2 linked regions of the Homo sapiens genome follow. The protein of the gene in region 2 purifies or fractionates together with the protein of the main gene of each other region. This does not show direct contact. Each region holds a gene or a part of one and is shown on either strand. Other genes may lie near its edges. The genes, in order: CDAN1 and MAMDC2.

Region 1 (3,904 bases), on a different chromosome or scaffold from region 2:
ATCCTCTGTGGTGTGCAGGTGCTTGCTTCCTACTTGCAGTCTGTGTTCTGGTCTCAGTCATAGGTGCTCTTGTCCCTGCAGGGTTCTTTCCAACCTGGACAAAGGGACCTTGAAGCTGCTGGCTGAGAATGAGCGGCTGCTGTGCTTCTCACCAGCTCTGCAAGGCCGCCTTCGAGCTGCCTATGAGGGCAGTGTTGCCAAGGTAGTAACCCCAGCTTAGTTGCCCACTAGCCTGGACCTAACCCTTCCTAGCTTTCATAAATTCAGGCAACCCTGCTGACGACACTTCAGTGTAATGTGAGCTAACTCTGGGCAAGAATAAGAGGGAGAAGTTTTCTCAGCATGACCCTGCAGTTCCTAACGTTCCTGCTGTATTTTAGGTCTCTCTGGTGATGCCTCCCTCTACTCAAGCTGTCTCCTTTCAGCCAGAGACTGACAATCGTGCCAACTTCTCCAGTGACCGAGCCTTTCATACTTTTAAGAAACAGAGGTGATAAGAAAAGGGACTTTTTGGGGAGGGAATGAGATGACATTTTTCTGGAATAGGCAGCTGTTTGGTTTCATAGAAATTAGGAGTTTGGCACCAACAGGTGGTGGGTTAGTCCCCCCAGGTCCTTCCTGCCGGCCATCATAGGGACCACCTGGCTTCATTCTCATGTGCATCTGTGAACCCCGGCGCTTAGCAAGCCATCTCACAGGTGTATGGTTTTAGTCTCAGGGTTCTCAAGCAAGAGTGTGCCAGGATGAACTGTCACTGCCCACAGAAGTACATGAAGCCTGTAATGTGCTGCTGGTCTGTAGCACTACTGTCATCATATAGAGAACTCTGGAGAAATTTAAAAATGGGGCTGCTGGCCGGGTGTGGTGGCTCACGCCTGTAATCCTAGCACTTCAGGAGGCCGAGGGGCGGATCACCTGAGGTCAGGAGTTTGAGACCAGCCGGGCCAACATGGTGAAACTCCGTCTCTACTAAAAATACAAAAATTAGCCAGGCGTGGTGGTGGGCACTTGTAATCCCAGCTACTCTGGAGGCTGAGGCAGGAGAATCGCTTGAACCCAGGCGGGGCGGAGGTTGCAGTGAGCTGAGATCGCGTCATTGCAATCCAGCCTGAGTGACAAGAGCAAGACTCCATCTCCAAAAAAAAAAAAGGTGGTGGGTGGGCTACGGATAGTTCTTCCAGGGGCAGGAAGGCACTGGTGGGAGTGAGTGCCTCGGCTGATCAGGCGTTCTTATGCGTCAGGGATGTGTTTTATGAGGTGCTGCGAGAGTGGGAAGATCACCATGAGGAGCCTGGCTGGGATTTTGAGAAGGGCTTGGGCAGCAGAATCAGGTGGGTGCTCAGACCTTGTCTTTCTTGTTCCTGGCAATGAGTAGCTCAGTGCTTGCTCGGTGGCAGGAGGGAGGAGGAGGGAAGGTTTTCCCCGCTCCTACCAGCCATTAGCTGTTTTCTACTATCCTCCGAAATCTCTTTAGTTATTGATAACTCTGCCTCTATTCGAAAGGGATGTGTCTCTCCAGCTCCTTCCACTCACAGGTGTCTTATCCTTGTTCTGTAGTGGCAATTGCTTAGAAAGTCCAAAGCTCTTAACTCAGGTTGCTTGAGGTTTTTTTGGCCCAAGTCACTGCTTAGACACATCCAGCCTCCATCTTCTCCATCCTCTAATTTGGGCAAGTCTGGTCACTGTGCAGGTAGATGCCTGGGCTCAGAACGCGAACCTCAGTCCAGTCATCTCCCTTCACATTGCTCATGAAACCCGCCGCCTGTTAGTGTGGCTGAAGACGGTCGGGGGGTGTGGTCGCATGATTTCTTGTTTGGTTAAGTGCACCTCTAGCCTCGGAGGACCTTGGTGCTGAGGGAGTGTCCCTTGCCTTCAGTGTCCCTTTGCAGGCTGGCTCTGGCTGAGGTCTGCTCAAGTCCCTGGTAAACGGCTGGGAAGTCCAGGGGTTGGCTGCTTCTCTCAGATCTTTCTCCCTCTCCCTCCTTTCCACACCCTTCATTCCTGCCTTCTATTCCTCAGGGCCATGATGGGTCAGCTCTCCGCAGCCTGCAGCCACAGCCACTTTGTTCGGCTTTTCCAAAAACAACTACTCCAGGTAACAGCCCCAGCAAGAGATTAATCCACATTAAACAGCAGGCATCACAGGCAGCCACTTAACGGCTGCACTTTGGGATAGGGCAGACAGCCTGGCAGGTCCTGGGCTGGAATTTGAACAAGAGTTCTACTCCTCGCGGAGTGGCTGAAACTCCAGTGGCCACAGAAAAGCCAGGGCACTCTCTTTGACACATCCCGGGCCCTGCAGCTCCTCTAGCCTGCTGCTGCCTTCCCTGATTTGTGCTGTGGTAAAGAGCCCAGGCTTAGTAAGTAGTCAAGCTTTGTTTCAGATCCTAGCTCTAGTGACCCTAGGCACATGCTTAACCTTGGAATTTAAGTTTCTTCACCTGTGAAACAATACTGTAATTCACATCTCAGAAAATCTATCTAAAGCACTTGACACAGTTGGCATTCCTTAAATGTTCATTACTTTCTCCTTATTTTTTGTTCAGTCCTTCCCTCCCACTTGCTGATTTTTTTAATTTCTCTCCTTCCTCTTCCACCCTAGATGTGTCAGAGCCCTGGTGGTGCTGGGGGCACCGTCTTGGGCGAGGCCCCAGATGTGTTGAGTATGCTGGGAGCTGACAAGCTGGGGCGGTTGTGGCGCCTACAGGAACGGCTTATGGCTCCTCAGAGCAGTGGGGGGCCCTGCCCACCCCCCACCTTCCCAGGCTGTCAAGGCTTCTTTAGGGACTTCATCCTTAGTGCCAGCAGGTAGGCTCCCCTGTGTCTTGCAAGGAATGGGGCAGAGGCCAGGAAAGGTTTGGCTTCCCAAAAGGGTAAATAGTTCTCCAGTCTCCTTTGCCTGGAGATAGGCTCCTTCCAGCTCCAACTTGCTGGCTTCATTGCACTTCTCATTCTGTCACCCACGTGGGTGATTTCATTGCTCCTGGGCCTCCCTGTCTGTCCTGCTGCTCCCTTCCCTCTGGAGTGCCCCTTCTCGATTCTGGCTTTTCCTGTACCTCTTCCAGTGCTTATGCCCCACCCACCCCTTCTTCTCAGCTTCCAGTTTAACCAGCATCTCATGGACAGTCTGAGCTTGAAGATCCAGGAGCTCAATGGTCTTGCCCTGCCCCAGCATGAGCCCAATGATGAAGACGGGGAGTCAGACGTAGACTGGCAGGTCCGAAAACAGAACAAGGGAAATAATGGGGTCTGACCCAGGAGGGAAGGGAGTATGTTCAAGAAAAACTTTATAACAGATCGGGAATTGTTCTGGAAGCCTCATGCTTGGACCTTTTACTTCCCTTGATTCCATGCAGGGTGAGCGGAAGCAATTTGCTGTGGTGCTTCTTAGCCTGAGACTTTTGGCTAAATTCCTGGGCTTTGTGGCTTTCCTGCCATACCGGGGGCCTGAACCTCCCCCGACCGGTGAGCTTCAGGACTCCATTCTGGCCCTCAGGAGCCAGGTGAATGGGCGGGGGATTCTGGTGAGGAGGGAGCAGGGAGGACCGGCCAGGCACTGAAGCTGACTGGTTTCCTTGGCTATTCTGGAAACCAGGCAGGTTAAAGGGCATCTCCCAGCCCTTCCTAGGGACCTGCCCCCTGACTGAGCTCTGGCCCTCCCAGGTCCCTCCGGTCCTGGATGTGCGGACTCTGCTGCAGCGAGGGCTGCAGGCCCGCCGGGCGGTGCTCACCGTGCCCTGGCTGGTGGAGTTTCTCTCCTTTGCTGACCATGTTGTTCCCTTGCTGGAATATTACCGGGACATCTTCACTCTCCTGCTGCGCCTGCACCGGTGAGTGGAACAAGGCTGAGGCTTGATGAAAGGATTCGGGACTCGGGACATTGGTCAAGCCTGCTATTAATAAA
Region 2 (3,904 bases):
TGGGACCCAAACAGTATAGAGTAGTAAGACAATGACCACCAGTGAGACAGGGACCCCAGGCATTTGGCAGTGTACATGGTTTCTTTTGTCCAGGGCAGGATTACAAACAGGAGTGTGAGGATGAAATCATGCAGCAAAAAACACTGTCAGGGTCAAGGCAGACGTGATGTCTTAGCACTGACGTCCCATCACAGAATTGTGGAACCATTTCTGCAAAGCTGAAGGAGAACTAGTCCCATGCAACTTTTCCCAACTCACAGACATGTCTCCTGAGGACCAGAAAGGTTGCTGGCCTGCAGAGGCACACAGCTGGTGTGCCTGCAGAGGCCCACAGCGGAGAACAATCATTAGCTGTGCTCCGTTTCTCCCTTCCATTAAGGAGTGCTGGGGTGAGACGCAAATTTTAAGCTTCTACCCATAGGCCAGGTAAACAAAGGGCGGCCTCCCGCCCGCCCCGTTCCTGCCTCGGCCATCCCTTGCAGCACAGCTGAGGGCTTGAAGGAGGATCCATGACTCACACTTTTCTTGCCGCGGAGAATTAACTCCAAGATAACATTACCCATGTGGGAAAAAAAAGCAAGCCATCAAGGAAGAAAGTTCACTTCGCGCCCCTCTCCACCGAGCCTCCTTACCTTCCTCATTTAAAATCCACGGCAGAGAGGCCAACACGGAGTCAAAGCCGCAAGTGCTCTCTTCAAAGGCACAGGACCCAGCGGGCAGGTCGAGGGCACCGGCGAGCTGCAGGGCTGCGGGCACAAAGCGAGTTTCAGTTCGAGCTCCACCCAGGAGCCTTTGCACCAACTCGGGGAGCCCCAGGGGGACTACCTGGTGAAAGTGGGGGAAAGACGAGCGGGAGGGGGCGGGAGAGGGATGCAGTACCTGTCCCCCAGCATCCCCGGGCGCCTCCACTGAGCGACCCCACGCCCACCCCCACCCCCACCCCAGGCTTGGCCAGGGGAGGGAGTTAGCGGCTGCGGAGGATCAGGAGGCGCCCTCGGATGGCCCAGCCCAGCACGGTGAGCCGGACCCCCGGGGGCAGCAGGAGCGGGGGCGAGTCGTCAGAGCGCCCCCGGGGTTGTCCCGGGGTCCAGGCCTTACCTTGCAACGCCAGGAGGACGCCCCTTAACAGCATGGTCGCGTTTCAGGGAGGATGACTAGGAAGGGGTGCAAGTTGCCAGCCCGCTGGGACTGGCTGCTCCTAGTGAAAGGGATCGTGGGAGGCGGGGGCGCCGGGGACCCAAGGAGGGAGAAGTCGAGAGGCAAAGCTTGCGCTCTGAGCTGCCCAACTTTGCAGAGCGGCTCCCGGAGCCGAGCGGTATGCTGGAAGGTGCTCGAATGGAGAGCGCCAGCGCCCCGGCGCTGAGCAGCAGCCTCAGGTCAGACCGCGGCCCAGCTGGTCCTGGGCGACGATGGGGCTGGACAGGGAGGAGACAACTGCACACTTTGAAAGGCCAGCCACGACTGGCTGGGAGAGGAGAGGTCGGCCCGCAGTGCCTTCGCTCAGGATTTTAAAGCTTGGGACCAGAGCCCTTGCAGACACTTGGAAGGGGCAGGCCTTCCAGGAGTCCCTCCGCTGGGTTGGGACCCGAGGCTCCCGCCCCGCCCAGCCGCGGTGGGAACTCGCTTATTTCTGGGGACAGCTTCCCTGCATCTGGCATGTCAGTCCCGCAGGGCTGGCCCTAATTTTAACTTCTTCTCCCCAGAATGAAAGAGGGTGGAATTCTCCAAGGACAGCCTGGAGGAAAATTTGGAAACGGTTGGGTGGAATAAGCTTTATATCTAAGGAGTTTCAGCGTTTACGGTCCAGCAATGCTAACCCTGGAATACCACCCCCACTTTTTTTAGCCGGTGGAATGTCTGGCATGCCTGGTGCTCAGCATTCCCTCCGTCCGGTGAAATGGGGGCATTCCTTCTCTCCAAAGAGCCATGATAGATTGATTAATGGGAGGCTTTACACTGGGAGGGGGTTGTTGGGGAGGGAGTTACTTCTGAGGAAGCTGTTTGCTTTGGGCACTAAGTGGGTCTCCAACAATATTCTTTTCTTGTAAAGAGTTCTTCTTCCTCCCCTCCTCTTCCTCCTCCTCCTCCTCCTTTCTCCCATTTATAATTTTGTGCAGGCAATTTTGTGAGGAGGGCAGTGGTTTTAAAACCTGAGGGTGCATCAGAATCTGCTGAAGGGCCTCACCCTCCGTTTCCGATCCAGTAGCTCTGGAGTGGGCCTGAGAGGCTGCACGTCCCTAATAAGTTTCCAGAGGCTGCTGCTGCCGCAGCGGGTTTGGAACAATACTTTGAGGACCACTGGCCTAACAAACTCCAGTTGAGCCATCAGTTCAACCTGCTCCCATGCCTTCACCTGGCTTCCAGACCGCTGGGTTTCCTGGTCTTTCATTGGCCGCCGCTTCTCGGCCTCTTTGCGTTACCTCTGTAACCCCTTAACATGAGAGTGCCTCCAAGTTCTTCCCTGTCACTCCTGTTTCTTTCTCTATCCAGCCCCTCAATGCTGTCCTCAAGTCTCATAGTTTTAGATACCAATGATAGCCTGATAACTCCCACATTTATATTTCTAACCCAGACTACTCACTAACGCCAGACTCTTCGATCTCATTGCCACCTCAACATTTCCAATCGGATGCTTCAGAGCTATTTCATACTTAACAGGTCCCAACATGAAGGCTGCATATTTCTTGCCAAACCTGCCCGTCCCCTGTGTCTTCCTCATCTCAGTAAAAGAACTATTTTCCTCCAGTTGTTCAGGAGAGAAAACTTGGAGGCATCTTCAGCTCATCCGTTCCTGTCAGACATTGCCAATTTCTATCAGCTCAGGATTCAAAACACAGCAGATGCTGACCATGCTCTGTGCCCATGGTGGTGATGCCTTGGTTGGTCCAAGCTGCCCTTGCCATCAACCTGGGATACCGCAGTGGCCTCCTGACCACGGTCTCCCTTCATTTTCTGCCCTGCCCACCCTACTCTATTCTGAACACACTAGTCAGGGTTATCCTTTTAATACAGAAATTGGGCCATGTCACTCCTTAGCTCAAGACCCAACAAGTTCCCAAGTCATTTAGTAAAGTCCAAAGTCTTCACGATGACCAACCAGGCCCTATAGGACCTGCTCCACCCTTTTCTTTCTTTTCTTGCTTTCCTTCTTTTTCTTTTTTTGAGACAGAATCCCACCCTGTCACCAGGCTGGAGTGCGATCTCTGTTCACTGCAAAGTCCACCTCCCAGGTTCAAGCAATTCTCCTGCCTCAGCCTCCCAAGTAGCTGGGATTACAGGCGTGTGACACCACGCCCAGCTAATTTTTGTATTTTTAGTAGAGACAGGGTTTCACCATGTTGGCCAGGATGGTTTCAATCTCTTGACATCATGATCCACCTGCCTCGGACTCCCGAAGTGCTGCGATTACAGGCGTGAGCCACTGCACCCAGCCCCACCCTCTTATTTCTCTGACTTCAATCACCCTGCTTACTCTTCTCTAGCCACACAGACCTCTTGGCTGATCCTCAAACACAGTCCAGCTATCCTTTCAGAATTTTGCACTGGCTGTTCTTTCTGCTCAAAATGCTCTTCCACAAAGAGCCACACAACTCACCGCCTAATGAGGTCTTCACTCAGATGTCACTTTCAGTATTAGAAAATTAGTAACCTTCTCCCTAATAAGGAAAATATATCTGGAATCCTTTTTTAAAGGTAGGAACAAATTTTCATGTGTTTTCTGTAAACAATGATTCAAATGGTCAAAAATTTATTCATTAGTGTGTGCTATTTGGTGTATATGTATCTTTTTTTATTTATATGCTTTGCCTCAGGTAGTAGCTAATAATAACATTTATTGTGTTTACCATTATAAATGTTTTATGTAGATAATCTCATTTAAGCTTCACAAAATCTCTACAGGATA

The links.
Region 1: the proteins of MAMDC2 (region 2) and CDAN1 purify together in Homo sapiens (affinity purification with mass spectrometry; 2 studies listed by BioGRID and IntAct, with this or other methods). This does not show direct contact.

The regions. Positions count from the first base shown.
Region 1 is NC_000015.10:42,730,524-42,734,427, reverse strand, and holds part of CDAN1 (codanin-1), read left to right. Parts: intron 1-81; coding exon 82-202; intron 203-380; coding exon 381-490; intron 491-1,241; coding exon 1,242-1,331; intron 1,332-2,019; coding exon 2,020-2,095; intron 2,096-2,602; coding exon 2,603-2,808; intron 2,809-3,096; coding exon 3,097-3,217; intron 3,218-3,356; coding exon 3,357-3,503; intron 3,504-3,663; coding exon 3,664-3,830; intron 3,831-3,904. UniProt on the Homo sapiens protein: May act as a negative regulator of ASF1 in chromatin assembly.
Region 2 is NC_000009.12:70,041,426-70,045,329, reverse strand, and holds the start of MAMDC2 (MAM domain-containing protein 2 isoform 1 precursor), read right to left. Parts: upstream 1,483-3,904; 5' UTR 1,133-1,482; coding exon 1,099-1,132; intron 747-1,098; coding exon 633-746; intron 1-632.